Linked DNA regions of Homo sapiens. The protein of the gene in region 2 interacts with the protein of the main gene of each other region in a pairwise test. Each region holds a gene or a part of one and is shown on either strand. Other genes may lie near its edges.

The links.
Region 1: the proteins of ZNF18 (region 2) and TTC32 interact in binary tests that used the Homo sapiens proteins (3 or more experiments, as listed by UniProt).

The regions. Positions count from the first base shown.
Region 1 is NC_000002.12:19,891,389-19,908,228, reverse strand, and holds TTC32 (tetratricopeptide repeat protein 32), read left to right. Parts: upstream 1-6,245; 5' UTR 6,246-6,374; coding exon 6,375-6,523; intron 6,524-10,193; coding exon 10,194-10,360; intron 10,361-11,102; coding exon 11,103-11,242; 3' UTR 11,243-11,598; downstream 11,599-16,840.
Region 2 is NC_000017.11:11,988,621-12,004,861, forward strand, and holds the start of ZNF18 (zinc finger protein 18), read right to left. Parts: upstream 8,856-16,241; 5' UTR 8,811-8,855; intron 8,753-8,810; exon of another isoform or gene 8,653-8,752; intron 8,491-8,652; exon of another isoform or gene 8,190-8,490; intron 7,060-8,189; exon of another isoform or gene 6,938-7,059; intron 6,907-6,937; exon of another isoform or gene 4,882-6,906; intron 4,292-4,881; 5' UTR 4,210-4,291; coding exon 3,823-4,209; intron 2,544-3,822; coding exon 2,354-2,543; intron 1,931-2,353; coding exon 1,842-1,930; intron 1-1,841. UniProt on the Homo sapiens protein: May be involved in transcriptional regulation.

The DNA.
Region 1 (16,840 bases), on a different chromosome or scaffold from region 2:
ATTTCTATTTTAGTTGAATTTAACAGAAGAAAAAGAAACTGAGGTGAGACTGAATAAATTGCTGTATTATGTCTTTATGCTGAGAGATATCAGCTCCTAAGAGATTTCTCTAAAGTTAAAAGAAATTAATGTCAATGATACCTCCAGCTGATTGAAGTCCACCCTTTCCACACTGATGTGCAATTATATGGGAAAAAAATCAAGTCCATATATGTAGGTAACAATTTCTGATTTCTTTTTCTGTTCCATTGATCTGTTTGTCTTTCTTTGGCCCAAAGCAGAATGTCTCAGTTATTATAGTTTTTAAAATAGGTCCTGCTATCTGGTACAAGTCCTCCTTTGTTTTTCTTCTTCAAAAATGTTTTGTCACTCTCAGTCCTTTGCACTTCTTTTCTACATATACAACTATATAACCATGTTTAATGACTGCTTTTTTTAAAAAAAATACTTCTCAATTGTCATGTCTTTCATTTCTTTTTATCATCTTATTGCACTGGCTAGGATACCCAATACAATGCTGAATAATTAAAGTGATGATACTGGGCATTCTTGTCTTATTCTTAATCTCAAAGGAAATTTTTCAATATTTTAAGAAATCATTGCTTATTATATTTTCTGTAGACATTTTGTCGGTAGGTTTTAATAAGTATGTCTTCTTGTCCTAGTTTGCTAAGGAGTTGAATTTTATTAACTGCATTTTCTACATCTGTTGAGATTTTTCTTCAATTTGTTGATGTGGTGAGTTAAGTACTACAAGCAAGAATACTTGATAATGCTAAAAACTGCTATTCACAGTGACAATGTAACATGTAAGAGTATCTGTAGACATAGATATAACACCTAATATCTATGCTCGTAGCAACCACCTTTATAAAGCAGAAACTGCAGTGGATGCAACAAAATCAATAGAAATACAGTAATAATGACTTCAATGCAATGTTGTTGCAACGATCTTTTTACAGAAAACACACTTGCCACTTGATTTTTCCATATTTTTTATGTGATGAAATAGACATAGCACAAAATTTACTATCTTAATCATTTTTAAATTTTTTTTAAATTTTTTACAAGACGTGGTCTAGCTCTGTCACCCAGGCTGGAGTGCAGTGGCACAATCATAGCTCACTGCAGCCTCAAACTCCTTAGCACAGTAATCCTCCCACCTCAGCTTCCCAAAGTGCTGGCATTACAGGCATGAGATCCTGCACCTTGCCTATCTTAATCATTTTTAAGTGTACAGTTAAAGTGGCATTAACTATATTTATTAAGTACATTCATATTGTTCATATTCCACCACCACCACCACCACCACCACCACCACCACCACCACCACCACCACCATCCATCTTCAGAATTCTTTATCTTGCAAAACTGAAACTGTATGCTCATTGAACAATAACTCCCTATCCCCCTTAAAGCTGTCCCTGGCAACCACATTCTACTTTCTGTCTCTATGAATTTGACTACTCTGGGTACCTCATAAAAATAGAATCATTCAGTCTTTTTGTGGCTGGCTTAATTCACTTCATGTAATGTCCTCAAGTTTCATCCATGTTGTAGCACGTGGCAGAATTTGTTCTTTTTAAGACTGAATAATATTCCATTGTATGAGTATACCATATTTCGCTTATCCACTCATCTGTTGATAGACACTTGGATTGCTTCCACATTTTACCTAGTGTGAACAATACCGCTATGAACCTGGATGTGTAAATATCTCTTTAAGACCATGCTGTCAGATATTTTGGGTATATACTTAGAAGTGGAATTGCTGAATCAAATGGTTATTCTTAGTATTTGAAGAATTGTCACACCATGTGGTTGCACCATTTTACATTCTCACCAATAGTGCATAAAGATTCCAGTTTCTTCACATCCTCACCAACACTTATTTCTTCTTAATAGTTTCCATCCTACTGGAGTGGTGAGAAGTGGTATTTGATTGTAGTTTCAATTTGCATTTCCCTAATTATTAGTGACGTTGAGCATTTTTTCATGTTCTCATTGGCCATATGTGTATCTTCTTTAGAGAAAAGTCTATTCAAATCCTTTGCCCATTTCTGCATTGGATTGTTTTGCTTTATTGTTGTTTTTGGAAGTTCTTTATATAGTGTGGGTATTAATCCCTTATCAGATACATGACTTGTAAATATTCTGTTTTTTACTCTGATAGTGTCTTTTCATGCACAAAGGTTTTTAAATTCTTGTCAAGCCCAATTTGTGTAGTTTTTTCTTTTGTTGCCTGTGCCATTGATGTCATATTCACAAAATCATTGCCAAATTCAGTGTTGTTAAGCTTTTGCCATATGTTTTTTCCTAAGAGTTTGTAATTTTAGTTCTTATATTTAGGTCATGATCTATTTTAATTTTTGTATATGGTGTAAGAGACCAGCTTCATTCTTTTGTAGTGGATATCCAATTTTCCTAGCACCATTTGTTTAAAAAACTGTCTTTATGCCAATAACACACTTGTTTTGGGTAATGCAGCTTTGCAGTAAGTTTTGAAATCAGGAAGTGAGTCCTTAAACTTTGTTCTTTTTCCAAAATTGTTTTGGCTATTTGGGAGTCCTTGTAATTCCATATGAATTTGAGGATGGAGTTTTCTATTTCTGCAGAAACATCATTGGGATTTTGATAAGGATTCCATAGAATCTGAAGATTGATTTATATAATATTAACATCTAAACAATATTAAGTCTTCTAATCCATGTACATGAGATGTCTTTCCATTTATGTCTTCTTCAATTTCTTTTAGCAATGTTTTATAGTTTTAATTGTACACATCTTTTACTTTCTTGATTAATTCCTAAATATTTTTTTCTTTTTGATGTTACTGTAGATGGAATTGTTTTCTTTTCTTTCTTTTTTTTTTTTTTGAGACAGAGTCTTGCTCTGTTGCCCAGGCTGGAGTGCAGTGGTGCAAGGCACAATCTTGGCTCCCTGCAACCTCCACTTCCCAGGTTCAAGTGAGTCTCCTGCCTCACCCCCTGAGTAACTGGGATTACAGGTGCCTGCCACCACACCTGGCTAAATTTTGTATTTTTCGTAGATACAGGGTTTTGCCATGTTGGCCAGGCTGGTCTCGAACTCCTGACCTCAAGTGATCCATCCACCTTGGCCTCCAAAAATGTTGGGATTACAGGTGTGAGCCACTGTGCCTGGCTGGAATTGTTTTCTTAATTTCATTTTTGGATAGCTTCATTGTTAGTGAATAAAAATGCAACTGATTTTTGCATGTTGATTTCATATCCTCCTACCTTGCTGAATTCATTAGTTATAACCATTTTTTAAATGGAATCTTAAGAAGGACTGGTGTTGGTTCTTCCTTAAACATTTAGTAGAATTCATCAGTGAAGCCATCAGGTCCAGGGCTTTTCTTTGTCAAGAGGTTATTTTTAGATTACTGATTGAATCTCCTTACAAGTTACAGGTTGATATGGTTTGTGTGTGTCCTCACCCAAATCTCATCTTGAATTGTAGCTCCCATAATTCCCACATGTTGTGGGAGGGAGCCGGTGGGAGAAAAAACTGAATCATGGGGGCAGTTTCCCCCATACTGTTCTCATGGTAGTGACTAAGTCTCACAAAATCTTATGGTTTTATAAGGGATTTCCCCCTTCACTGTTCTCTCATTCTCTCTTGCCTGCTGCCATGTAAGACGTGCTGTTTGCCTTCTGCCATGATTATAAGGCCTCCCCATCCACGTGGAACTGTGAGTCCATTAAACCTCTTTTTTCTTAAAAACAAAAAAATTACCCAGTCTTGGGTACGTCTTTATTAGCAGTGTGAGAACAGACTAATACACACGTCTATTCATATTTTCTATTTCTTCATGATACAATCTTCGTAGGTTTTTTGTTTCTAGGCATTTGCTCATTTCATGTAGTTACTCCCATTTTTCAGCATACAATTGTTCATAGTACTCTCTTATAATCCTCTTTATTTCTGTAGAATTGATGGTAATGTTCCCATTTTCATTTCTGATTTTAGTAATCTGAGTCTTTTCCTTTTTCGTAGTCAATTTAGCTCAAGTTTTATTAACTTTTTTAATCTTTTTAAGAACCAACTTTTGGTTTTGTTGATTCCATTTTTGTTTTATCTGTGTTTTGATCTTTTATTATTTTCTTCCTCTGCTAGTTTTGTGTTTGCCATTTGTTCTTGATATTTAATGTTAATAAATGTTTTACTTTTTAATAAATCTGTTAATATTCCAACTGTTTTTTAATATAATTCCTTTCCTTTGTAATCCTATGTTTTAAAAACACTTGAAAACATTGAAACGACATAGGCTTCACCACACTTGTAAAGGTGCCATAGCACAAAAAAGGTTAAGAATCTTACTCCTATTTAGAAACCCCCTTCCCAAATCCCCAATTTCCATTACATATCCTGCTATTTTCCTCTTAGATCACTGGTTTTTAGACACATAAATATTCCTGTTATTCCTTGAACAGAACAAAGCAAAACTTCTAGTCAGGTGCGGTGGCTCATGCCTGTAGTCCTAGCACTTTGGGAGGCTGAGGTGGGCAGATGTCTTGAACCCAGGAGTTGGAGATCAGCCTGGACAACATGGGGAAACCCATCACCACAAAAAATACAAAAATTAGCTCACTGCCAACCACTTCCACCCAGAAGGGATTCTTGTGCCTCAGCCTCATGAGTAGCTGGGATTACAGGCACCCGCCACCACGCCCAGCTAATTTTTTGCATTTTTAGTAGAGACGGGGTTTTGCCATGTTGGCCAGGCTGTTATCAAACTCCTGTCCTCAGGTGATCTGCCCGCCTAGGCCTCCCAAAGTGCTGGGATTACAGGCATGAGCCACAGAGCCTGGCCATCTCCACTTTTTCTTATCCCCCAAAAGGATTAACATCCCTGGCTTTATGTAGAATAGTGTACGCTGCCACATCAGTGTTTGAGTCATTCCCCAGAGGAGAGGGGAATCCCCCCTCCATTTTTTTTTTTGCAACATCTTGTCTTCCCTTTGCTGTTGCTTCCCCCAACACACTTGGTTTTGTTCTATCCTGTACTTCAGATTTGTTTTTTGTTTTGTTTTTTTCATATTGAAAAGATGACATTGCTCCAAGAGGCAAAAATAAATGGGAACTGAAAAAAAAAAGCTTTTTATCTTATTTATTTAATCTTTTAATTCACCTGGAATGAATATTATGTCAATTGGGAGCTTAAATGCTTAAATGTATTTTTCCCCAAATGGTTAACTAATCCTCCCAATAGCACTCATTTGAATAATCTGTCCTTTCCCCATATATGTTACATGTCTTTTACAAAATACAGCCTATTTGAGGTATGTTTCTGGGCTTTTGTTCTATTGAGCTGTCCATTTGCTTACACCAGAAATGCCAGTTTATTTTTTTGTAGTCTTGCAATCTTTTAATTTCTACTAGTGCTTTTTAATTTAACCTTAATCCACTGTATTTGTATTTTTTTCAGTGGTGGTAAAAGGAAAAAATTAAAAATCTAATGAAAGCAGCCAAAAGCACACAATTTATGTCCTGTTAAGACTTCCGCATGTAAGTATCATGCTCCAAATATATTTTTCATCTTTACTTTTTATGACGGAAAGGGCTCAAGTACTTTGGGAAGCAAAACAGAATCGAGGGACGCCGAGAAGATACACAGCAGGCATGTAGGGTAGCGTGGTTGGCAACTGTTCTTACAAAATTTTAATTTGAATTATACGTAATGTACGTAATAAATTACTATTTGGATTTCCCTTTGGCATAAACAGCCAGGGAATATAACTAACATCAAAGATCCCAGACTCTCGACACAATATACTACTAATCGTAACACAATTCTAGAGGGTCAAAAAAGGTAGAGAAGTTTGGACCGTGGAACAGACCTGGTGGAATGTCGACACAAAGCGTTTCAGGGTAGACAAAGCCTACTCAGAACACCCTAAACGCGGAGTTTTGCTAAGTTGGGACGCTAAAAGGCAAGGGAATGACAGGACGTCCGCAGGCTAATTCGCCATTAAGAAACAGAACCGCGGCTTCTTCCACCTCCAGCGTCATCGGCCCCCAATTCGCTGTAACAAACGGATAGTGTCTCGCAGCATCAGACAACGGACTTGGAAATCAGTTTGCGACCACGCATCTGCGCCTTTTCTAGGAAAAGAGGAAGGCGGGTCCAACACTGGTAACGGCAGAAACATAGTTCACAAGGGCCACTGCAAACGCCCCGCCAGCAGCGGAACCGTTATCTCGCGAGACGACGGATCCCCATAAGGCACAAACCTAGCGCCAAGGTTGGCTGTCAAGGTAGATTCCAGGGTGTGGAAGTGGCTTTGTGGTGCCACCTCTAACCGCTCGGAGGTCAACCCCCATTCTACACCGAAAACTAGGCCTTGGCTGCTATGGAAGGACAGCGGCAAGAAAGCCACGCAACCCTAACACTCGCCCAGGCTCATTTCAACAATGGAGAGTACGCGGAGGCCGAGGCACTGTACTCCGCTTACATTCGCCGGTGCGCTTGCGCGGCCTCCAGCGACGAGAGTCCCGGGAGGTAACTATCGCGAGACCTGGGGCCGCGGCGACCCCGGGTGGAGGCGACGTTGGGGTTGTTTGGGCTCCTATCTTTGCCTCTGGAGCTCACGGTCGGCGCTTGTCATAACCCAGCACTAGGACTGAGCGGGCGGACGTTCGTCTTTCTAGAAAGGCCTAGGCGAGGCCTAGGACGAGGGCGGCGGAGAACGCGGGGAGAAGCCCACCCGTGAGGAGCCAGCTGCCGCGACGGTGCGGAGAGATTTCCGGGAACCAAGCCCTCTGCGCGATCCTCGGGCGCGGGCCGCCGCCTCTCACCCCGCCGTCTCTCCTTCCACGTTCCTCATTCGCACCCAGAGACTTAGGACAGATAGGAATTTTCCACTCGTGATTTTAGCTGGCGGGAAATCCGCGACCTGGGAAGGGAAGGGGTCACGGCTGCGTAGGGCCACAGTACCGCGACTCCCATCTCAGTGTCACGGCGCAGGCTCTTGGTGGTGTTTTTCACTTGTGAAAAACGTTTAAATATGTGGAAGAGAGCATAACGAACGTCTAGGTGTTTATCACTTGGCTTAAGCATTATCAGTTTACCTATTGTATTCATCCATGGATGTTTCAGAAGGAACCACCATGTCATCATCACATAGTTACTTAATATCAAGTCGTCAGTGTTGGAACCATTCTGATCGACTAATAAGGTGTTTTGTTCTTTGGTTCCCTTTTCGCAGTTAGTTCAAGTCAGGATACACATCAAGTCTTTTTAAGTCTCTTCTCCACCTTCCCCTCTTTATTTGTTGAGGAAACCGATTCTTGTGTCCTTTGAATTTCCGTGTTTTGGACTTGCTGACTGAATCTCTTCTGTCGTTTAATGTGGTCATCTGTCTCATATTGCTGTGAATTGGTGGTTAAACCTTGAGGTTTGATCCAATTGAATTCAGATTCAATATCATGGCAAGAATACTTTTTAGGTGGGTGTGTGTACTTTCACCAGGAAGCACATAACGATTCGCTGACTTTCTCTTTGTGATGTGAGCGGCTTCACCTGTTACTGTCTGCTTGCCCAAAGCATCTTTTCGGCTTGTGCCTGGATGTGTAGCATTTGTTTTTACTCCAAGTCTTGCCTCGACTGGGCTTGTTGATGGTATGGAGTGGATCAGGATGAGAAAAGAACAGAGGGGTTGGTTGAACAGCTTTTTGAATAGTTGTGAGTTGTCTGTTGTGGATTTGAGTTTTCTGGACAGGATGCCAGCTTGTCTTTTGTATGAGGCTTAACTAAACACTAAGGACTTGATTCTTACCCTGTTTGTTACGCTACATGGAATTAAACCAGAAAGAAAATTGCCTTCTCATTTCAATAACACACAAGAATAATAATAGAAGTTTCTGAACAGGCAATAAGATGATACCATCTACTTTCCTCAGTGCACCTCCCCCATAAAAAAGATAAGTAAACATAGAAAGCGAAACTATTCATGTTTCAAGCTCTAAGAGTAGACTTACCTAGTAGATTTTAAAAAGTATTTATCAGCATCAGGTATGCTGTTGCTGTCTAGTCTTGTTATTCTTCCTTCTTTGCACCTCTCAGCCTAAGAACACAAGTGTCTGTAGCATATATAATAGCTATGCCTTACCAGCACAGGAAAGACAGTTTGTCATAGCGCAGTAGAAGGGAGTTCATCATGCCTGAATTCCAGTCTTGGCACTGCCACATGGCTAATGTCTCAGCCTCAGTTTTTCATCTGTAAAATAAGCTTTTGATAAAATTCTAGGAACTCAAGGATTGAAACTGAATTCTGTCATTTCAACTTTTTCCCTTCAATTTATCTTTTGGAGCTTACATTTATTTTCTAAGTATTGGGTCACTAAATCATTTTGAAACAATATTTGCAATTTTTGAATGCCTTTCATTCTGAATGGTTTGTGACGTTTTCTTTTAATATCTAAAGTATAGCTTTAGTCATAAACCTAATTTCCAAAGTGTGTGTGTATATATATACACACACTTTATATATAAAAAATATATATACACACACTTTATATATATATAAAAAATATTTTTTTTTGCGAAAGTTAGCAAATCCTAAAAATTCACATTTGGGTTAGGTAACTTGAATGAATTCCATTATAATAAATACTATCATTACAAAAATTTTAATATTACAGAAAATTTCGGCTTCAACTGTTAGTCCATTTCTTTAAAATATGAAACAAAATTTCCACATGAAAACGATTTTAGAATTTGATTTAATGAGATCTAATTCTAAGTCTAACATTTTATGATTCTCTATATTACGAATATATAATTAGTATTAAAAACTTATAACAATAATTTTGAAACTTCGATTTAATGACTAAAACCTTACTGGCATCCTGAGATTGCTTTTTTCTTTAAACTCTCTACTGGGAGCAGTTCAACTAGTGTCATGTCACACATAGGTGAAGGGGAGTGGTACCGTCTTGTAATCTAGGTTTTAACGGGGGTGCTTAGTGGCATCCAGAAGTATCCCTACATCCAGTCTCCATCACAGCTCATAGAATAGACGTTTTCTAAAATTGCGACAGTTCCTCTCCATCGTTAGCAAACTTGGTTTGAAGGAGGCCCTTGGGCTGTGAGTGCCTCTTAGGGTAGCAGTAGTTACAGTCCCTGTCTGAAATCTCAAGGATCAAGATATTAAGAGAAGTAGCTTTTATTTACACTAACTGCCTTCACAGATACTTTCGGAGGACTATACTTTTTACTACGGGGTATTACAAAGAAGTGACAGATGAATTCTCTGTTTGGTTCTAATTTGAGAATTGCTTTGGGAAAAAAGAAAGGGAAACAGAATCATCCCTGACTCAGAGCAGAGGCACTAATGTTCTCTGTGCAGACTATTTGTCCTGTGCAGAGAAAGGTTCAAGGCAGCCAGGGGCTGTGACCTGTTGAGCTGGTGGCTGGTCAGAGCTACCTGGCTGTACAGCCCAGGAATGGCTGCTAATTTAAAGCTCTTTGGGCAACCTCTAGTTCCCTCAGGTGCAGAGCCAGTTCTGCACAAAGGACATCAAAATTGACTGGAGCCCTGAGGGGGTCTAAAGGAGCCCACCCTCCTAGCAGGAAGCCAGCCTGGCATTGGGGAGGATGCCAGCTGAGGCTGGAGGGAGGGCAACTCTGTCCCCAGAGATAACTTCCTGGGGATCGTAGCATGTTGAATTTTCACTTAGCGTTAACTTTAGTTTTTTATTGGTGGAAAATGATTTCAAATCTTATTGTTTTAAGATCACTTAAAAATTTGAGAATGAAATTGATTCACATTGTGACATATCCATAGCAAACTCGGGCTTTGGGCTGGCTTTCCCTCTTTGCTTAGTATTTATCTGTTCTGTCTTCTTTGCCCTGCTGGTGTGTGCTTAGAAAAATGAACAATCATTTTAATGTTATATTCAGCAGAACAAATTGGCAGTGAACACACTGTAAAGTTAGTATGCTTTTCAGGTTGACATTGCAGTGGTATAACCCTACAAAAGTAGATAACAGGGTTAAACAAAAATTGATTTTAGCTCTTTATTTGTACGTTTTTTCTTCAGCTTGGATTTTCAGTGTTGATGCTGCATGTTATAGGCTGTGAAGTTTGACAATACCCAAAAGAGAATGAAAGTGGAAATGAGAGGAATTTGGTAACACGGTGTTTTTAATGTGAACTTTTTGTTTAAAGCAAATGCAGCCCTGAGGATTTGGCTACTGCATATAACAACAGGGGGCAAATCAAGTACTTCAGGGTTGATTTTTATGAAGCCATGGATGACTACACATCTGCCATAGAAGTCCAACCCAATTTTGAAGTTCCATATTACAACAGAGGGTTGATACTGTATAGGCTGGGTAAGAATTTTTTTTCTTTTTGAGTTTTGTCATTGACTGTATTCTGTTATTTCAGAGCTTTCAAATGTTGTAAAACTAACGTGGTAATCAAATTTTAAAGTTCTGTGAAATTTAGGTTTAGAGCTTGGAACAAAGGAAGTGTCCCTGAGTTTATTTTAGGCTTTTGATAGGCGTTATAGATCACAGCAGAGCACTGGGGTGGGAATTGGACCTGGGCGCAGGAGCAGGGGTGACCCCATTACTTTGTGCTTGTGCATTCCCAGCTGTGAAATGAGGGCAATTCAGATGTTCACCTGTGAAACTTTTCTGAGTTAAAATCTTTGAAGACACACAAGACAATAGAAAGTGAAGTTTAGATTCTTGGATTAAAGGGACCATAGGTAGTGTTTCTTCATTTAAAGTGTCAAAAAGAAAATTAGTTCCCGTTTCTTAATTTTACTGCAATTATGTAAAACAGGTGATACAGTTTTATTAAAATTTTAAGATGATTGATAATATTTACCTGTTAAATCTCAATAAATAAACCCATAGCTAATTTTAGGTGTATTATTCCCTAAGGGCACACAAAATTACTTTGATATACACATCTCTATATTATTAAGATAAAAAGATTCCTTTACTAGAAGTGACTGAAAGCTCATAAATATAAAAGCAAAAGTACATGTATCAAAGCTTTTCCATGAATAATATATAGAAATACTCGGTTTCTTTTCTCTTTTCCATTTTTTGGGTTCTGGTACAGGATATTTTGATGATGCTTTGGAAGATTTCAAGAAGGTCTTAGACTTAAATCCTGGATTTCAAGATGCTACTTTGAGCTTAAAACAGACTATTCTAGACAAAGAAGAAAAACAAAGAAGAAATGTTGCAAAAAATTATTGATATTTTTAACTTAATGGAAGTATTGATTCATGATCCTTACATCTGCATCTAGTTATCAGTAATTTAGATATTGAGCTATTTTGATTTATATTTAAGAAATTAATACATTAGCACTGAAAGTTAAATAGTGTGTTTAAGGTAGTTAATTTCAGGTTGAATGGGTTTTTTTTAATGAAGTGTAAATAATACCAATGTATAAGTGTATATTATTATATTAAATATTATAGTAAAAAGGAATGTGTGGTATTTTCTTCAGCAAAACTATTTTTGTGATTTTTTTATTCTCAACTTTTTATTTAAAAAATGTTACATCTGCAGAAAAGTTGAAAGTATAATAAACTCTTCAGTTAAATTCATGAGTTGTTAATATTGTGCCACATTTGCTTTTTCTATTTAAATATATAACTTTTTGCTGAAACATTTGAAAATAAGGTGACGAGGTCACAGTACTTCGCCCCTAAATATTTCAGCCTACATTTTCTAAGATTGAGGACATCCTCCTTTATAACCACAATACCATTATAATACCTAATAAAATGAATAATTCTGTAATGTCAGCCATATCCAGCCCATATTCCAAAGTGTGTAGATTTTTATTTGGATCTAGAGCCAATCAGGTTTCAATTGCATTTTTTTTTTTTATGTTTCTCTCAGTTCTTTTAATCTAGTCCCCTGTCCATTTTCTTGCCCTAGCATTGGCTTTGAGAGAAAGGCTATTTTATATAGCTAGGCTAGAGAGACATAACATTTAGGCTTAAAAATAAACATGTCCTACAATTTGAAAGAGTTCAGCTTGAATTACACTTGATTTTCTCAAGTAATCATTGATAAAAATAGGTTAAGATTTAAATATTGAACATATTTTCTGTCTCTGGATAATGACAATTGTTATCAACATTTACTGAATACTATAAGCCAAGCACTGTTCAAATCTCCATAATAATTTGGTGATCAGGTAGGAATGTATAGAGAGGTGAGGAAATGACAAAAAGCACTTAGTAAGTATAAAGTTTAAAAATCTTTTATTTTGGTGCTGCCAACAATTAGGCCCTTATGAAGCTATCAAAAACCGGGAAGAACTTGAAGGGAAAACAGACTAACACCAGCCATATGCCATCTACATTTTTTGTATTTTATTGTTGTTTGGCTTCCAAAGATTCCCAAACTAGTTTATTACTGCTATGGAAAAGCTGTTCTGTGGTGGAAATTACCCGAATCAGGAGAAAGGAAAGTTTGCTTTGTGTCTTCAGAGGAAGGCGCAGGGTAACTTCTGTGGCCTCAGATGCAATCAGCAGCAGCAGCCTTAAAATGCTTTTTTTGTGTGTGTATGAGTAATCTCATGAAGCAGAAAAAGTAATTGCCCTGTTTGTAGCTCATAAGTAATATCTGGCAAAATACATGGAGAGTTTGGGCTGTAGGTAAGTGAATATTAAGAGGAAATTAAGTTTCATGGCCTAGAAACAAAGTCTCTGTTTCTGGAATTATTCATACTTTCCAAAACGGTTTATCTTATATTTGTTGGAAATCTAAAAAAATTTCTAAAATTGCATTAAAATGTAGAAAAATCCTTAGGAAAACTTTTTTTTTAAAAAAGCAAGTTTCCTAGACCTTGGGAGGGAAAGCTTTAAGCCATTCCACCCAGAGAAGCAAATGCTTAATGTTTAATTTTATTTTCTCTTGACTCATATTCTCTTTACTCTTGACTGGGATCAGATGGAATATGAAAAGGAAAAATTGTTTAACATTTTCATGTGGTTTGTTAGATTATATTCAAAATTTCTTCATCCTTTATCAGAAAAAAAAAAAAAAAAGTCACTTAAGTTCAGAATCAGCAGTTGCTGATTGTAGACCCAGGCACTCATTTTCTCTTGTCTTGTTACTGGAAATAAAGAATAATTCATTTACCTTGTTTAGCGTTGAAACTTTAGGCATTATTCAGATTCTAAGTTTCTGATTGACCAAATAATACCTTGGATATTTACCTTAAAATATATTCATTACCGTTCATATTTCCCACATTTCAGTATTCGTTATTTCCTTTTTCTACTAGAAAAGTAACTTATGTTTTCTAATTTTTTCCTTTGTAAAAACAAAAGAATTGTGGTTTGTTATAAGGTTTCTCTTTCACAAAGTGAGGTAAGATAGGATAAAATGGATTTAAGTTACTTTTGAGTTTAGAATATTACTCCTAACAGTAGTTGAAAAGTGTGGAGCTATTTGTTTTTTTCTGAAATTTGGAACTGAATAAAACCCTTTACTTTATGATAGCAAAGCAAATATCCAAGTTAGTCTTTAGTCATTATCTATTTGCTCTTTTGCTCTGTCATTTGCTCTTTTGCTCTGTCTTTTTTGGTTTTCTGTTTTTCACTGGCTTCTCTACCCTCTGAATCCTAAATGTAGCCTTGGCTCCCTGTCATTTTGTAGGTCTTAAATCTTTCTCCGTGGGCATGATATATTTCAACCCCACCTACCACTCAGCGTTTACACTGATTCTTGTCTCAATGTCTCCCTTTCTGCTAAGTCTAGCCCCCTTAAAAATTTAACTCAGAAGTAAACAGTTTGTATATAAACCGTAATAGCATGTTTTTTTTTTTTCTTTTTTGAGACAGGGTCTCACTCTGTTGCCCAGGCTGGATTGCAGTAGCTTGATGACAGCTCACTGCAGCCTTGACCTCCCTGGGCTCAGGTGATCCTCCCACCTCAGCCTCCTAAGTAGCTTGGACTATAGGCATGCGCCATCATGCCCAGCTAATTTTTGTATATTTTGTAGAGATAGGGTTTCACCACATTGTCTAGGCTGAGCATGAATGTTTACTGTGCTAGTTTTTTGTTTTATTGAGAATAATTCATATATCATATAGTTTACCCATTTAAAGTGTACAGTTCAATGGTTTGAAGGTATATTCAGAGTTGCTGCACCATTTTTTCAAGGTTTTTGGGTATACTGGTCTTGCATGCAAACTGCACTTAAAGTTACAACACAGAAAAAATTTTATGCAAATTAATGACTAAACATGAGAGTGTTTCAAAAACAACAGCTCATGCACAAAACAGATCTAAGAGTCCTAAAAAGTGCTGCTTCTGGCTTCATTCAAATATGTGGCACGATTCCACTTTGTCTCATGTGATGCTCTCTAACTAGAAATGTGTTGAGTAAATCAGACGGCTCATCTCTGCCTGAAATGGATGCTGAATTTAGTGTGTTTAGGTTAACATATTGCTACGCTAAACAAATTGTTGACAAATGTGTAATAGCTTTTCAAGAGCATAGTGAAAAGTTGACTGAATATTTGCTATTTACGCTAGGTGTGTAATTTTAACAATTTCTATATAAATTCACATTTTGGTGTTTTCTGTGTTTCTAAAAAATGTGACAGTAAATTGTGAGAACAGAATGCCCATAATTTAAAATGGCAGTTGGTAAAAGAGGGAGAGTGAGATTTGTTAAATTTCAAATCTAATGTTAAGGGACTTCAAATGACACCATTTCACTCTACAGAAAGGAAAGAAGGATGAGTATAGTCTAATTTCTGTTTTTGAAAAAACAAAGCAATTGATACAATTAAAACACATAGTTTATCCTTTTTAAAATCACAAGAAGGTAAAAGAACACGTCATGTAGCAAGACAAATTATAAAACAAGCAACCTGTAAGGAAGCCCCGAAACTGAAATTATGAATGTGGATATAAAAGTAAAATAGGAACACAACAGTGTAATCCCAGGTTTATATGTGTCATCACAAAATCATAAATATAGCAGTTTAGTGAAGGTCTTATTCTGCATAGAGGATGAAGCTAAGAAATTGAGTAACTTGTGCAAGGTTGTGTCCAAAATCCATATAAATATTTGAAACTGCAATGAGTATCAATGTTTTTGCTGTTGGCATCAACTCACAGCAGATATGTGGACTTTTTTTTTTTTTTTTGGTCCTGATAAAAAATTTAAATTGCTCATAAAATGTTTTAGTACCCAGCAAAGTGAGTATCAGAATAATATTAAAGTATGTTTTTAAATAATGGAATGTTATTGCAATGCCCACATTGCTTGGTGGTCATTTTTCTTATTAAAAACAGACACAAAAGATGGTGAAAAGCAGATTAATTTTAAGAGCAAACTCCATTTGGAAACTAGATAGCTACAGCTGCCAATATGTAAATTTTTATCTTATGTCAAAAAAAGCATCCAATACGTAGAAATAAGGCAAAAGGATTTGCATGGCATTTCAATATCATACCAGCAGACCCACTCAACGACTGTTTAATTCTTTTGGGGAGCCATGTGTGTGCCTTTCTTTGATTTTCTATTTACTCTTGATTAGGGCCCAGACTCTGGGAGGTTGCATGTAACTTGCAGATTTTTGTCCAGAGGAGATGCAAATGAACTCTGGTAGAAAAGATAACCCCAAAAGTTTTGGCTGTATTGCCCTGAAGAACGTTAACCAGTTTTGTATTTAACCTAGCAACTTTATTCCCAAATTCTTTCTTCATGGACCATAAGTACTCAGTTATTCTAATGCTCTTTTACCACTCTGGCGGTTCTCTATTAATGAGTTAAACATTTTTCACATTTTCATTCTATATTCTTATAAGAATCGTGCTTAACTTCAAAAAACATTTTGGCCCTACTACTGAAGAAACAACAAAAAACCCTTGGTATGGTTTGGCTGTGTCCCCACCCAAAATCTCATCTTGAATTGTAATCCCCATAATCCCCACATGTCAAGGGAGAGACCAGGTGGAGGTAATTGAATCATGGAGCTGTTTCCCCGATGCTGTTCTCGTGATAGTGAGTGAATTCTCACGAGATCTGATGGTTTTTAAGGGTTTGGCAAGTTCCTCCTTCTGTCATTCTTCCTACTGCCTTGTGAGGAAGGTGCCTTGCTTCCCCTTTTGCCGTGATTGCAAGTTTCCTGTGGCCTTCCCACCCATGCTGAACTGTGAGTCAATTAAACCTGTTTCCTTTATAAATTACCCAGACTGGGGCAGTTCCTTATAGCAGTGTGAAAACAGACTGATACAACCCTTAAGTAGAATTTATTATTACATAGTCACATTATTTCTAGCAGGAATAAGAGCCAAGGGGGACTGAAAAGCTTCAGTTTTTTTTTCTGTTGCTTATTTATTTTTTTTTTTTGAGACAGAGTCTCGCTCTGTTGCCCAGGCTAGAGTGCAGTGGCGTGATCTCAGCTCACTGCAACCTCCACCTCCTGGGTTTCAAGGGATTCTCCTGCCTCAGCCTCCTGAGTAGCTGGGATTACAGGCATGTGCCACCAAGCCCAACTCATTTTTGTATTTTTAGTAGATACCGGGTTTCACCACGTTGGTCAGGCTGGTCTCAAACTCCTGACCTCATGATCTGCCTGCCTCGTCCTTCCAAAGTGCTGGGATTACAGGCGTGAGCTACCGTGCCCAGCCCGCCTATTTCTTTAAACTATTCAACAATTCTTGTTTGGAGTGTGTGGAGGCTTGAGCTCTGGCTGAAGCGAAGTAGAGGGAAGGCCATCACATTCAATTTAAACACATGCAAAAAGTACTCCTTTTAAAAGTGGCAAACCTGCAGAATATAAGGTAAAAAGCAGTTCCTGTCTATCCTTCTAG
Region 2 (16,241 bases):
TATATGAAGGGGCATCAGATTACTCAGAATACTCAGAAGGGAAGTGCCTTAGCATGGAAAGAATAATCCTCGACTAAATGTTTCTCTGGTGCCATGTAATAAACTGTGTCCAAATAACTGCACCCCATAGCAAAGTTCAAGAACATTTATAGTAATACAAAAATATATAGCACCCCACCAATGTGATACCCAATCAAAGATTACCAGGCACGGGCAACATAGTAAGACACACAAAAATTTAAAAATTAGCCAAGCAGGCCGGGCATGGTGGCTCCCGCCTGTAATCCCAGCACTCTGGGAGACCCAGCTGGGTGGATCACTTGAGGTCAGGAGTTCGAGACCAGCCTGGTCAACATGGTGAAACCCCATCTCTACTAAAAATACAAAAATTAGTCAGGCATGGTGGCACACGCCTGTAATCCCAGCTACTCAGGAGACTGAGGCAGGAGAATTGCTTGAACCAAGAAGTCGGAGGTTGTAGTGAGCTGAGATCGCGCCACTGCACTCCAGCCTAGGCAACACAGCAAGACCCTGTCTCAAAAAAAAAAAAAAAAATTAGCCAAGCATTGTGGCACATGCCTGTAGTTCTAGCTACTCAGGAGGCTGAGGCAGGAGTATGGTTTGAGCCCGGGAGGTCAAGGCTGCAGTGAGCTATGACTGCACAACTGCACTCTAGCCTGGGAGACAAAGTGAAACCCTGTCTCAAAACAAACGAAAAAGACAAAGATTACCAGGCATACAAAGAAGTGGGAAAATACATCTCATAATGAGAATAATCATTGATCAAAACTGACCCAGAACCAATGCAGGTAGTAATCAGTAGATAAGGATATTAATACAAATACAACTATATTCCATATGTTCAAGAAGCTAGAGAAAAAATTGAACACATTAAGTATAGACATGAAAGATACAATAAAGCCCCAAATCAAACTTCTAGAGGTGAAAAATTCATCTAAAATGAAAAATATACTGGAAGAGATTAACAGCAGATTAGATGCTGTGAGATGAAAAGACTAATGAACTTAAAGACATCAAAATAGAAACTGTCCTAAATGAAACACCAAGACTTCAAAAACAGAATGAAAAATATACTGGATGAGATTAACAGCAGATCAGATACTATAAAAGAAAAGATTAATGAACTTGAAGACAAACAGAAATTGTCCAAAATAAAAGACCAAGACTTCAATAACAGAATGAAAAATATACTGGATGAGATTAACAGCAGATCAGATACTATAAAAGAAAAGATTAATGAACTTTAAGACATACAGAAATTGTCCAAAATAAAACACCAAGACTTCAAAAACAGAAAAACAATCAGTAAGCTGTGGGACAACTTGAAGAGCTCTGATACATGTATATACATTATCATTATACACATTCCACAGGTATTATTTCCCAAGTCCTTAAAGGAGAGGAGAAATAAGCGAGACAGAAAAAAAAATGCTTTAGAAATAATGGCCAAAAATTTTCCAAGTTTAGTGAAAACCATACACCCACAGAGCTAGGAAACTCAATAAATCCCAATTACATGAAATGTGAAAATGACTCCAAGGCACATCAAAATCAAATTGTTTTAAAAAATGAGAATACACTGAAATAAGCAAATATATATATATGTATATATATACACATTATATGCATAAGAACAAAGATAAGAGTACATTTGGCATGATTCTATTTTTACAAAACTCTAGAAAAAGTAAACTAACATATGGTGACAGACAGCAGATCAGAGGTTTCCTCAGGATGGAGAATGGGGTGAAGAGAAGCAGGAGGATGAGATTATAAAAGGTAAAAAGTTTCCTTTTCATCGCTTTTGTACGTCAGCTCACCTGAGGTGCTGCTGGGAGCAGTGAGGCTCCGAGGTCCTGGTCTCTGATCAGCCTTTCCTCCAGTCGGGCAGGCTGGGAGGCAGCCAGGGCTGAAGTGAGGAGAGGAAGTTTTCAGAATCTGGATGTCTTCCTTAACCACTCCCCAGAGGGCGCAGATAACAATCTTCACAAATCAGAACAATACCTGAACAATACCTGTACTGCCATCTATATTTCAAGACTTGTGTTTATCTCCCTGACACACTCCAACCCCCTCCAACATTCCAGTCTCACCCATATGTTCTCCCACCTCCTTCCTCAGAGCCAAAATCCAAATGGTCTGGCCCAGTCATAAAGCAGTTTAAAACACAGACTTTGACTCTCCAAACAAGAGCGGTTTATTTAGGTCTAACCTGTTTGCAAACCTCTCAGGGATACGCCAATCTGAGCAGCATACCATTTCAACTCACTTAGGCCTACTAATCACAATCCCAAAATCTCTCCAAGAGAACACCACACAGCACCATCCTCACCTAGTTCTGCTTCTGTGTCAGATTCCTCTTTCACGATGTGGCTCAGAAGCTCCCCAGGCCCTGAGGATGAATTCTCAAGTCCCAACTCCTGAGGCACCACTTCAAGATGGGGCTCCACTTCCCCCACTTGGCAGCTTGGAGATTCCATCTTCTCTGATAAGATGTCCTGTCCTAGAACCTGGATACTGATCTAGAGACCATATATTAATTAGTAATTACTGAAGAATCCAGAGTAAGGATCTCTAAAAGACACAAAGCTTACTCTCTACAACAGATCATAAGACAATTTCTAAGGATGTGGAGAAAGAGAAAACCAGCTTTTATTTCTAGTCCAGCAGGAACCAGGGAAAGAAACGTCCCAAAAGACACCAAAAGCTGAGGCCCGAATCAGGCGTGGGAGACCTTCAAGACATGCCACTAACGTGCTTCTACTGGATATGCGCCACCAATGAAAACTCAGGCATCTTTTAAATAACTTCTCAAACATTCTAGTCTAAAGGTGGAATGCGCTGGGAGACTTTACCCTCAATCCTCAATAGCTAAAGAGTGTTGAGAGTCAGAGAGTGTTAGAATTACGTGAGGTATGGGGGAACCCAGCTGTGGTATAATAAGAAATACACATTTAGTCTTTGTCCCCAGTTCCCATTCCCGCAGAGCTCCTAAAACCCTGGTAATTTCTTGAGGGACAGGTGAAAGAAGAGTCTTTGTTATTCATAAGGAGCCCTTCTCAACCACACCTGAGTTTATGCTAGGCTCCTAGATAGCTTCAGGATGGGGGCTGGTTGCCAGAGGAACCAACCTTGAGATTAAAAGGTTGGAACTTTCAGTATCTCCACCCAGCTTCTGAGGAGGGGAGGGCAGCTGGAGATACTCAATCACCAACGGCAAATGACTGTATCAAGTGTGCCAAAGCAGTGAAGCCTCCATAAAAATCCCTAAACCATGAGGTTCAGGAAGCTTCCAGGTTGGTGACCTCATGGAGGTACTGGTAACGTAGCACGCCAGGAGAAGCATGGAAGCTCCACGCTCTTTCCCCCACACCTTGCTCTATGCAGCTCTTCTCTCTGGCTGTTAATGAGTTGTATCCTTTAGAGTAAGTCAGTAACAGGAAGTAAAATCCTTCCCTGAGTTCTGTAAGTCATTCTAACTAATTATCAAACTTGAAGAGAAGACTGTGGGAACCTCCGAATTTATAGCCAATTTGTCAGAAGTACAGGTGGCCCCTGGGACTTGTGACTGGCATCTGAGAACAGGAGCAGTCTTGGATTGAGCCCTGAACCTCCAGAGTTAGCTTCAGAACTGAATTGCTGGACACTGTACTGGTGTTAGAGAATCACAGAATTGGCCATTGGTGTGAAAAGCCCCACCCATTTTGTGTCATAAGTGGTATCAGAAAAAAGACAACACACCTGATGGGACCAGAGAGGAGCCCTGTGTTTCACTCGCAGATCATAATACCCTCTGCTTACCCATTGCCACAGTCTCTGGGGGTCCCCCTTCAAGCTTTCCACAAGGGTCACTGCCTCTTCTCCACTTCCTGGACACTGTTTCCGCACCCACATCTGGATCTCCCCAGGCAGGATGGTCAGAAACTGCTCCAACATGAGGATCTCTAGGATCTGCTCTTTGGTGTGAACCTCTGGCTGTAGCCACTGGAAACAGAGCTTCCGAAGTTGCTTCAAGGTCTCATGAGGCCCAGACATCACCTGGTAACGGAACTGCCTGAAAAGCTGGCGTGCGGTCTCAGGGCTGGAGAGTTCCTCTTGAAGGGCAGCATCTGATTCTGAGAACTGGGAGTCCTCGGCCTTCGCCAGCGATGGCAGCAGGCCTAGGGCCTGCCCCAAGTCAACGGGCATTGTCCAGCCTGGCAAGTCCTTTTAAGTAAAGTGCTTCTGCAGTGGAATTGTCTCCGGCAAGAACTAGGTCTTCACCAGGACACTAAAAAGGGAATGAGATTGAGTGCTACACAGAGGAAGGGGACACATTTTCAGAAAGAACAAATTCACATGCCCTACCCGAGAAGCCATGGGGTCAACTATGGAGCTTTTGAAATTGCTCAATGGATACACGATTCTATTTTGAAAGATTATAAACTTGAAGCCACAAAGCAAACTACTGATACTGTATCTAAACAGCCACCATTTCCCTGCCCATTTTATAATGTTCTTTCTTGGTCTTCAAATGTCCAGACAAAATGAAGAATAAAATGCACCATACGAAACTTTTTCACTATAGGTTTCCAGGTAAACGGCTCTTCTACAAAACACTTCTACATCTTCATCTATATATCTGCATACTAAAAAATAAAGCTGGAAAAAGATATTAATGCCCTAGGAATAAAAGCTAATGCCTACATGCTTCTGTAATAAATAGGAGGTTAAAGAGAACAAGTTAAGTCTTCCAAAAGGTACCAAAAGTACTTCCAAAAGTATACCAAAAAGGTGTAATGAAACTTCCAAGAGAGGTCTTTTGAGTGCCATATTAAAATAGGTCTATTTGAGAATTTATGAAAAAAACAAGTATCATACCTGACACTTTCAACCTTGGGGTTAAAGAGGGTGAGAAGGCTGGGCATGGTGGCTCACGCCTGTAATCCCAGCACTTTGGGAGGCCGAGGCAGGTGGATCACGTGGTCAGGAGATCGAAACCATCCTGGTTAACACGGTGAAACCCCGTCTCTACTAAAAAAAAATACAAAAAATTAGCCGGGCATGGTGGCGGGCACCTGTAGTCCCAGCTACTCAGGAGGCTGAGGCAGAAGAATGGGGTGAACCCAGGAGGTGGAGCTTGCAGTGAGCCAAGATCGCGCCACTGCACTCCAGCCTGGGGGACAGAGAGAGACTCCGTCTCACAAAAAAAAAAAAAAAAAAAAAAAAGAGGGTTGAGAAGACTAACTACCTTGAAAATACTCCTATGGTGTTGATATAAATAATCACTATTTTATGTGAATGGTATCAAATTTTAGAAGATCACAACTAAGACAGTAGAAAGAGAAATATTAAATCGCAAATAATATTATTCTAAAAAGGATCATCCACTACTTCTAGTTAACTTTCTTGCAAGTAATCACAATATAGGATTACTGGGTAAATCCTTAAATGTTATGAAGAATTTGGTGGTCATCATTTCTCCCTAAGACTAATCACAGCAATTTTTAAAAAAAGATACCCCATCACTTGAGGATCTGGCTTAATCAGAGATCAGTACAATACTCTAGCTTTTTGTAGCTGCTTATTTCTTAAGGTGTAGGAAACAATGTCTTCATCCTTACCGTTTCACCAAAATAATTTATCCGACATTGGAAAATCATTTAAAAACTAAAAAAGAAAAACAATTTTTTTTCAAGGGCCTGAGAAAGGAAAAAGCGAAGTCAAAAGAATTACAGTTGACCATTGAATAATGCAGGAGATAGGGGCGCCAACCCCCCACACAGTAGAAAATCCATATATAACTTCTGATTCCCCAAAAGCTTAGCAGTCTATTGACTGATGCCTTAAATAGTTGATTAACATACATTTTGCATGTTACTGTATTTTTGTGATAAAGTAAGTTAGACAAAATATTATTAAGAAAATTATAAGGAAGAGGCCAGGCCAGGTGGCTCACGCCTGTAATCCCAGCACTTTGGGAGGCTGAGGTGGCTGGATCACAAGGTCAGGAGATCGAGACCATCCTGGCTAACACGGTGAAACCCCTTCTCTACTAAAAATACAAAAAATTAGCCAGGCGTGGTGGCGGGCGCCTGTGATCCCAGCTACTCGGGAGGCTGAGGCAGGAGAATGGCATGAACCTGGGAGGCAGAGCTTGCAGTGAGCTGAGATCGTGCCACTGCACTCCAACCTGGGCGACAGAGCGAGACTCCGTCTCAAAAAAAAAAGAAAAAGAAAATTATAAGGAAGAGAAACTACATTTACTATTCACTAAGTGGAAGTGAATCACCATAAAGGTGGTCACCTTCATCATCTTCACACTGAGTAGCCTGAAGAGGACAAGGAACAGGAGAAGGAGAAGGAAGGGTTGGTCTTGCAGTCGCAGGAGTCACAGAGGCAGATGAAAATCCTTGTATAAATGGACCCTTGCAACCGTAATCCAATACCAAATGTTTTTTATGTGGTCCTCATTAAATTTATTTTTTGCTTAAAAAGAAACCCAGGTCTGAGCGCAGTGGCTCACGCCTGTAATCCTAGCATTCTGGGCGTCCAAGGCAGGGGGATCATTTGAGGTCAGGAGTTCAAGACCAGCCTGTCCAACATGGCAAAACCCCATCTCTACTAAAAATACAAAAATTAACCGGGCGTGGTGGTGAATGCCTGTAATCCCAGCTACCAGGGAGGCTGAGTGAGGCAGGAGAATTGCTTGAACCCAAGGGGGCAGAGGTTGCAGTGAGCCGAGATCACACCACTGCAAGAAAAAAAAAAAGAAACCCAGGCCAGGCGCGGTGGGTCACGCCTGCAATCCCAGCACTTTGGAAGCCCTAGGCGGGAGGACCACCTGTGGTCAAGAGTTTGAGACCAGCCTGGCCAACGCAGTAAAACCCCATCTCTACTAAAAATACAAAAATTAGCTGGGCATGGTGGTGCGCACCTGTAATCCCAGCAACTCAGGAGGCTGAGGTAGGAGAACAGCCTGAACCTGGGAGGCGGAAGTTGCAGTGAGTCAAGATCGTACCACTGCACTCCAGCCTGGGCGACAGAGGGAGACTCCATCTCAAAAAAAAAAAAAAAAAGAGTCAGTGAAGTCAAAAAATCTGAACACTATCAACCGACTTGCTCTAATTGACATTTTCAGAACACTAGACCCAAGAACTGCAGAGTATACATTCATTACAAGTGCAAAGAGTATTCATCAAAACAGACCATATGCATAATTTTCAAATGACTGATATCTTAAAATTAGCTCTAAAAATATTACGCAAAGTGGTATTGCTAAAAAGCCATTAAAGCAATACCAAAAAACACTCAAAAACCCAATATCTGATAGAAAAGGAACACAAGAGAAACAAAACCAGAAAGGTCAAATGGAAAACTTTAGAGCTTCCTGGGTTCAAATATATTCTCTGATCATAGTGCAATTAAAGTAGAAATCAATAACAATAACTAGAAAATCCCAATTTATGGAAATTACTAAATAATGCTCTTAACCCATAGTCAAAGAAAAAAATCACAAAGGAAATTAAAATATGTTTTCATACTGAGTGACAATGACAGCATTATCAAACCACCTGAAAAGCAGCTTTAGCTCAGAGGTAAACCTACAGTTTCAAATAACATCTTAAAAAACGAATAAATATATTTTTAAAAATACCTTGCTTTGTAAATCCAACCTATTTGGCTCAAGAGTTTCAAATAACAAGCGGCAAGATTTTAGATAGCAAGATACCGACCTGTAAACTTACTGCAATTTATCTGTTTCCTAAATTAAGATAGCAGTTTAGATAATATTTAAGAGAAATGACATTTTGGAAAAACTACAGATTTTATAAAATACTTAAATCTTTTGTTAGTAATATTATACTCCCAGGTAGTGTGTAAGAAAAATGTCTCGATTATTCAAAATTAAATTACTTTATATAGTATTAAAAATTTAATAGAGTTTATATTCCGATAACCTCATGAGGAACTGCCCCCATTAGTTATGAAAAAAAAATAAGGTTGTCTGTTATACCTGTTATTAAACCTTTAACAAATAGAATGAATTTTTAAAAGTGCATTCTAGGTGTAATATACACAAGTGGTTACATACATGGTTACATATATAAGTAACCATTTGTTAAGCACCTACTACGTATCGGCTCATTATTAAGCTCGGTTCATGTATTTCCAATTCCCACAATTACCCTGGTGTACAGATCAGGAACCTCCGAGGCTCACAAGTGGCAGCCAGATTAACCCAGGAAGCTCTAAAGCCTTTGCTTTGGGGAGAACTGCCAACGTCTGGTGATTTGTTGGGGCGTTTTCTGGTTGTCACAAGCAGCTAGGGGAACTGGCATTTAGTGCTCGAGGCCAGGGCAGCGCTGCTCATTGGATATGTATTCTCCACCATGCGCCCCCCAAATGCCGACTGCACTCTGATGAGAGAGGGAGAGACTCCAGGCATCATCCCATCGGGTTTCCTCTTCCAGAGACTCATTTTCAGCCCTTAGGGGAAGACAGCGGGGAGGAGCCCGTTTTCGGTCCCAGTGCAGAGACCCGGCCGGTCCCGCGGGGCGCAGAGGCGCAGGAATGCAGAGCCGGGACGGGGTTCACACATCCCCCCGCACCCACGGTCCACTCCCAGCCATGGCTGCCCCGGCCCCGCACTCGCCACGTCCCCCGCGCGCTCCCAGACGCATGGGCAAGGGAGCCCGCTGGCCCCTCCGTAGCTCCGGGGTGCCCAGCTGAGTCAGGTGCGGACGCAGATAGCGCAAGGCCTGACCCCGAGCGGCCGGAGGCCGGGACCGCCCCGCAAGCGCGCTCACCTCGGCCCGCGGCGCCGGCTCCGGGCGCACTTCCGGGAGCTGGGTGGCTGCGCGCGCCTCAGGCGGCAGGCGAACGACGTGCGGCACCGGGCGGAGCTAGGGGGCGGGGGCGGAGCTGATACCGAAGCTCCTATTGGCCGTCGGGGACGCCCCGCCTCTCTCTGGCGTTGCAGCCCAGGAGCCTCCACCGACATGGCAGCGAGGTTCCCGAGCCAACGCCATCCTCCGTTCCTTCCGTCACTCACTCACTAATCACTGTTCCTGAGTTCCTTCACTTCTCACCCGTCATTTATTGCGCACCTATTCTGTGCCAGGCACTCGGCCAAGCACTGCGAGGCCTTCAAAGATCATTTCTTTGTCTCTCCCAAACCCTTCCGCCCAGTCCCACCCGCAGAGCTGCAACGCTCTGCCATTATCCCTGATTCTTAACCGCCGCCTTTCTCCTTTCCGTTCTTGCCTCACTGGGCCTCCCTGAGACACTTGATTTGCCCCAACCTTCTTCCTCTGTCTTGGTTCTCCCACTCTCATCAGCTCTGCATCCCCTGGGTCCTCTCCCACTTCTCCCCATTCCGTTGGGGCTAGTCCAATGTGGTGCCATCCTCTTTCCACCTGCGTCTCTCTCTCTTCTCTCTCTCTCTCTCAACAAATGTCATCCCTGACTCTTCCCTTCTCCTTCCCTTTCCCACACGCCAACAATGGCTGAATCCTCTGATTTGACCTCATTGTCTCTCAGACACCTCACCCTCTCTCCCTTCTCACTATCCCTCCCTCGGCTCAGTTCCACACCATTTGTAATGGTCAAGACCTTCTTACCCTTTCCCCAGCGTCCAGTGTTGCCGGTTTCCAGGCCATCCTGTGCTGGGCCACGACATCAACTTGTGATACTAAGTTGCATTAATGGAAGTATCATGTCAAAGTTTGGGTGTTCCACCTTGGGCAACTGGCAAAGAGGAGGGTATTCAAAAAAAGCTGCCATGTTCCCCAATAACCTATGGAAATAAAATAAATAAAAAATAAAAATTTAAAGAAGAGCTGTCATTATCATAACATGTCCTGTACCTGTCATTATCATAACATGTCCTGTACCTGTCATTATCATAACATGTCCTGTACCTGTCATTATCATAACATGTCCTGTACCTGTCATTATCATAACATGTCCTGTACCTGTCATTATCATAACATGTCCTGTACCTGTCCCATGTTTACAAGAATTAAAGATCCTCCTCTGGAGAAATAAAGCTTGATGCGGGGATGGGATTACATCTTCATGTACCTGAAAAGTGACCAGCGGAAAAGGGATTCGACATGTTCTCTTAAGTCCCAGGGTCTGAACAAGATCCTATGTGTGAAACTACTGTTTCAGCCTGACATAGGTGGAAGTTTCTAGTCTTTTTTTTTTTTTTTTTTTTTTTTTGTATTTTTGGTGGAGACGGGGTTTCACCATGTTGGCCAGGCTGGTCTCGAACTCGTGACCTCAAGTGATCCACCCACCTTGGCCTCCCAAAGTGCTGGGATTACAGGCATGAGCCATGGCACCTAGCTGGACGTTTCTAACATTCATGTGATTGATGGCGCTGCTTTGAGTTCCTGAGGACAGCATGGCTAACAATTTACCAGGCACATTTAGAGGGACACCTTCATTGGGTATTGCTTCCAACATCAATGTGCTCTGCTTCTAAGAAAGTCAAGAGATAAGGTGGTTTAGAGGGGAAGATTATAGGAGTTTTATCTTCAATGTGTTCGCTTTTAGCTGATCAACACCCAAGGAAGATAACAGTAATTCAAAACCATTAATTGGGTTCTGACTCCTTTGTGAATCTGATGGAAGGTAAAATTTTTCCCAAGAAAAATGCACATACACATCTACATACAACACTTTGCACTCAAATCCAGGGAGCTAACACAGCCTTGAAACCCATCCTTGGAACCCACAAACCTCAGTTTGAGAACTCTAATCCTGGTAGATGGTTCCTGATATGAAAATGACACTTTGAAGTTTAATAATTTCTTTATAAACTGGCACCTTAGGAAAAGGCATAAACACTTATTTCGAAACAGGCTGAACAATCAAAATATTTTTTAAAATAGGGAGATATCTACCTCAGCTTAGGAAATAATGAAAAGGTGTCATCTATTTCTATTATTCACTTACTCATTCAATAAATATTTACCAGATGATGTGCCCAGCACTCTTCCAATAGCTATATATGCAAGAATGAACTAAACACACAAAGTCCCAGCCCTCCCAAGACTTATATTTTGTAGGGTGAGCTGGACAATAAATAAGTGCACAAGTGGTAATTATAGGTGTTGTGAAGAAAATTACATTGGGGTAAGGAGGAGAGGTACTGTTAGAGATGGAGTGCAAGTTATATAGGATGGTCAGGGAAGGACTAACAGATAAAACAGGCTTGAATCCAGACCGGAAGTTAATTAAGACGCAAGCCTTGCGTGTATCTGTGGGAACCTCCAGGCAGAGGAAATTGCAAAAGTTTTTGTTGTTGTTGTTGTTTGAGACAGAATCTTGCTCTGTTGCCCAATGTAGTGCCAGAATCTCAGCTCACTGCAACCTCCGACTCCAGGTTTAAGTGATTCTCCTGCCTCAGCCTCCTGAGTAGCTGGGATTACACATGCTTGCCACCGTGCCCAGCTACTTTTTGTATTTTTAGCAGAGATGAAGTTTCATCATGTTGGCCAGGCTGGTCTCAAATTCCTGACCTCAGGTGATCCACCCACCTCAGTCTCCCAAAGTGCTGGAATTACAGGTGCGAGCCACCAGGCCCACCCATAAACGTTTAGGCCATGAAACAATGAGTGACAATAAAGAGAAGCACTATAAAGACCAAGCCCTGGACCACGCCAACATATAGGGTCAGGGTAATAAGAAAAATCTATTAAAGGAGAAAGAAACTGAGGAGCCACTGAGGTAGCAGGAAAACAGAGAGTGGTATCCGGGAAGCCAACTGCATAAAGTGTTCAAAGAAAGAAGGAATTGCTGGGTGTGGTGGTTCACGCCTGTAATCCTAGCACTTTGGGAGGCCGACATGGGCAGATCACCTGAGGTCTGCACTTCGAGACCAGCCTAACCAACATGGAGAAAACCTGTCTCTACTAAAAATACAAAATTAGCTGGGCGTGGAGGTGCACGCCTGTAATATACAAACTGGCACCTTAAGAAAAGGTATAAACCCATAATCGCTTGAGCCCAGGAGGCAGAGGTTGCAGTGAGCCTAGATCACACCATTGCACTCTAGCCTGGGCAACAAGAGCGAAACTCTGTCAGAAAGAAAGAAAGGAAGAAAGAAAGAATCATCAACTAATCAAATGCCATGATCAAATGTAAGATGAGGATTAAGAATTGACTGAGCAACAGGAGTATAAAATCACTGGTGACCTTGACCTTATAAGAGTGGTTGGGAGTAGAGAAATCCTGAATGGAATAAGTTCAATAAGGAACGAGAAGAGAAGAATTAGAGCAGCAAATATAGACAAGTCATTCAAGAAGTTTTGCTATAAAAAGAAATAGCAAAATGAGACAAATTAGGAGATCTTACAGCATGCTTACACACTGATTAGAATGATCCAGTAGGGAGGAAAAATTTGTATGGAAGGGGAGAAAAGTGACAATTACTGAAAAATGTTCTTGAGTAGAGATTGATTTTTGAATAACAAGGCTTCTGGGTACTCACATAATCTAGGCCACATGGAACACTCACAGAAAACAATCTCCACTAAAGAGGAGCTTAAAGTCAAAAGTTACAAGCCACACCAAAAACAAATCCTCGTACAGAGAAAACGGGGAATAGAGAGGTGTTGATCAAAGGGTACAAAAAGTTCCAGTTAAACAAGAGGAGTAAGTTTTAGCAATCTATTGCACAGTGTGGTAACCGTAGTTAATAATAATGCATACCTCGGGCCGGGCGCGGTGGCTTACACCTGTAATCCCAACACTTTGGGAGGCTGAGGCGGGCGGATCACAAGGTCAGGAGATCAAGACCATCCTGGCTAACATGGTGAAACCCCATCTCTACTAAAAATACAAAATATTAGCCAGGCGTGGTGGCAGGTGCCTGTAGTCCCAGCAACTCTAGAGGCTGAGGTAGGAGAATGGCATGAACCCAGGAGGCGGAGCTTGCAGTGAACCGAGATTGCGCCACTGCACTCCAGCCTGGGGGACACAGAGAGACTCCGTCTCAAAACAAACAAACAAACAAACAAACAAACAAAGTATATTTCAAAATCACTAAAAGAGTAGATCTTAAATGTTCTCACCATAAAAAATAAGTAGGTGAGGTGATGAATGTATTAACTTGATTTAAACTTTTACAATGTATACCTATGTCAAAACGTCACATTATACCCCATAAATATATAATTATTATTCATGAATTAAAACTAAAAATAAATTTTTAAAAATCTATTATAAATGAAAATCACTAGTTACTAAAAAAATGAAAGCACATGCACTCCAAAATTCAGAGATAATAGAGCAATCTGAAAGATATTTTAAAATAAAAATTCTGAGTTGTTCGAAGAGGTTTAAAAAAAAGTAAAAGCAATAGAGCAAAAGAACCTTGTGGGAAAAAAAGAAGAAAGAAAGAAAGGATGAAAGGTGGGAGGGAGAAAACAAAATAAAACTGCAGGATCAAGTCTATTTCTTACAAACTAAAAGATATTAACTTTTTGGCTGGGCCCAGTGGTTCACGCCTGTTAATCCCAGCACTGTGGGAGGCCAAGGTGGGTGGATCATGAGGTCAAGAGATTGAGACCATCCTGGCCAACATAGTGAAACCCCATCTCTACCGAAAACACAAAAATTACCTGGGCGTGGTGGTGTGCGCCTGTAGTCCCAGCTACTCAGGAGGCTGAGGCAGGAGAATAGCTTGAACCCGGGAGGCAGAGGTTGTAGTGAGCTGAGATCGTGTCATTGCATTCCAGCCTGGCAACAGCAAGCCTCCGTCTCAAAAAAATATATAAAATAAAAAAATAAAAAAGATATTAACTTTTTTAATTAGGGAAAAAAATAGTCTAACATTGATGAGAGTCAGACATGGCAAATATCTTTGTTCCCATTGTAGAGATAAGAAAATCGAGATCCAGAGTGTGTAAGAGCGTAACTGAAAGCTGCAGACATTGTTACTGAGGCTGAATTTAAACTCTGCTTTTTCTGACTGCAGATCCCATACTCTGCCCTCTGTCTGCTGCATTTGTCCCAGGATAAAGTAGGGCTAACAGGACAAGCTGTTCAAAGAAATTGTATAAGGTTTGGGCAAACTATCATGGGAGATACTGTGAGAACTTGAAATGAATATATTGATGAAGTTAAATTACATGAGATTGTTGTGGGCCAGATCAGTTATTTCAACAAAAATTCCCTGGAACTGAGGAGCAGAAAGATTCGGATTGACTCAAGGTGAAAGGAACCTGGGCATCAATGGAGGATATCAGTGTAAGCTGTGTGGAAATGGCTTACCACACGGACAAGGAAGGGAGACCAGAACAGAAACCACTCCCGACACCCTCCCTCTGCCATCAAGATGTAGTTTGTATCCTGTTGACTTCAATAGAGCAAAGAGTGATTTAACTCATGGCAGAAGGAAACTGAATTGTCTTTTAAGGACTATTGAGAGAACAGAGAATTAAACAAGATGGTAACTGCTTTTCTCTAGTTAGGAGAAATACTAACATACATCACGTTTTATGTGGGATGTCCTAGAGGAGATCTTTAAGGTGTTCAAGAGGCCAGGCGTGGTGGCTCACGCCTGTAATCCCAGCACTTTGGAATCACAAGGTCAGGTGTTCGAGACCAGCCTGGCCAACATAGTGAAACCCCATCTGTACCAAAAATACAAAAAATAAGCCAGGCATGGTGGCAGGCGCCTGTAATCTCAGCTACTCAGGAGGCTGAGGCAGGAGAATCACTTGAACCTGGGAAGGCAGAGGTTGCAGTGAGCCGAGATAGTGCTACTGCACTCCAGCCCGGGTGACAGTGTGAGACTCTGTCTCAAAAAAAAAAAAAAAAAAGATGTTCAAGAAGGTTCAGGTGGGGCTAGGAAATGACTTCCTATAGTGCCTACAAGTGACACACAGGGCCAGAAGCCTGGATTAGCCCTAAAGTGCATACCTTAAAAAAGTATATATGGTGGATAAATCCTGATGCATCTCTCACCAAATGAAATTTTTCCCTGAGGCCGTAAAATGTCTTTAGACAAGGTATTCTCAATCTGAGACTTCAGGATTTCAATGACTAACTCCCCAGTATGCAAGTGTTTGTAGGTATGGGTATTTTTCTCAAATTTAAAAAGTCATTCCATGCTTAGGCAGACCCCTTTGAGCTTTTGAATCCATGGGCCTGGAGACACGACAAAGAAGTTAAGCTTCACTGGTATTGAATACAACGGACTGGCCAGCTCCTTAGTTTGCACATATGTTGAACAGGCTTGAGTCAGGATATAGAAGGTGCCATAAGGGAACGTGAGGAGGCCCACACCATGGAGCAGTTAAAAGTGAGGGCCTGGGCCGGGTGCAGTGACTCACGCCTGTAATCCTAGCACTTTGGGAGGCTGAGGCGGGCGGATCACAAGGTCAGGAGTTTGAGACCAGCCTGACCAACATGGTGAAATCCCGTCTCTACTAAAAATACAAAAATTAGCCGGGTGCAGTGGCACACGCCTGTAATCCCAGCTACTCGGGAGGCTGAGGCAGGAGAATCGCTTGAACCCGGGAGATGGACGTTGCAGTGAGCCAAGACTGCGCCACTGCACTCCAGCCTGGGTGACAGAGCGAGACTCTGTGTCTCAAAAAAAAAAAAAGTGAGGTCCTTACATTTTCACTTATTCAACATATTGAGACATACTGAAGTTAGTATGTGCAGGAATCAGTGGATTTATGGATTATATTACCTAGTTTTAACTAAACTAACCCTAGCAAAATGTTTCTTAACATTTAACTAACCCTAGTTTAAAGTTTCTTAACAAAATAATCTCAGTTTGAAGATAACAGTAATAATGCAGGCACATGTAAACAGCAATAAAATAGCATAGTTACACTTCTAACTTGAGTCCTTTTGCAGATACATTGGAAGGTAATGATAATGCCAATGAATCAGATCCGACCAAAGCCAAGCAAAATAATTTCAAATATTAAGAAATCTACTAGAAATGTGCGTTTATGGCCGGGCACGGTGGCTGAAGCCTGTAATCCCAGCACTTTGGGAGGCCGAGGCAGCAGATCACCTGAGGTTGGGAGTTCGAAGCCAGCCTGGCCAACATAGAGAAACCATGTCTCTACTAAAAATACAAAAATTAGCTGGGTGTGGTGGCGCATGCCTATAATCCCAGCTACTTGGGAGGCTGAGGCAGGAGAATAGCTTGAACCCAGGAGACAGAGGTTGCAGTGAGCCAAGATCATGCCATTGCACTCCAGCCT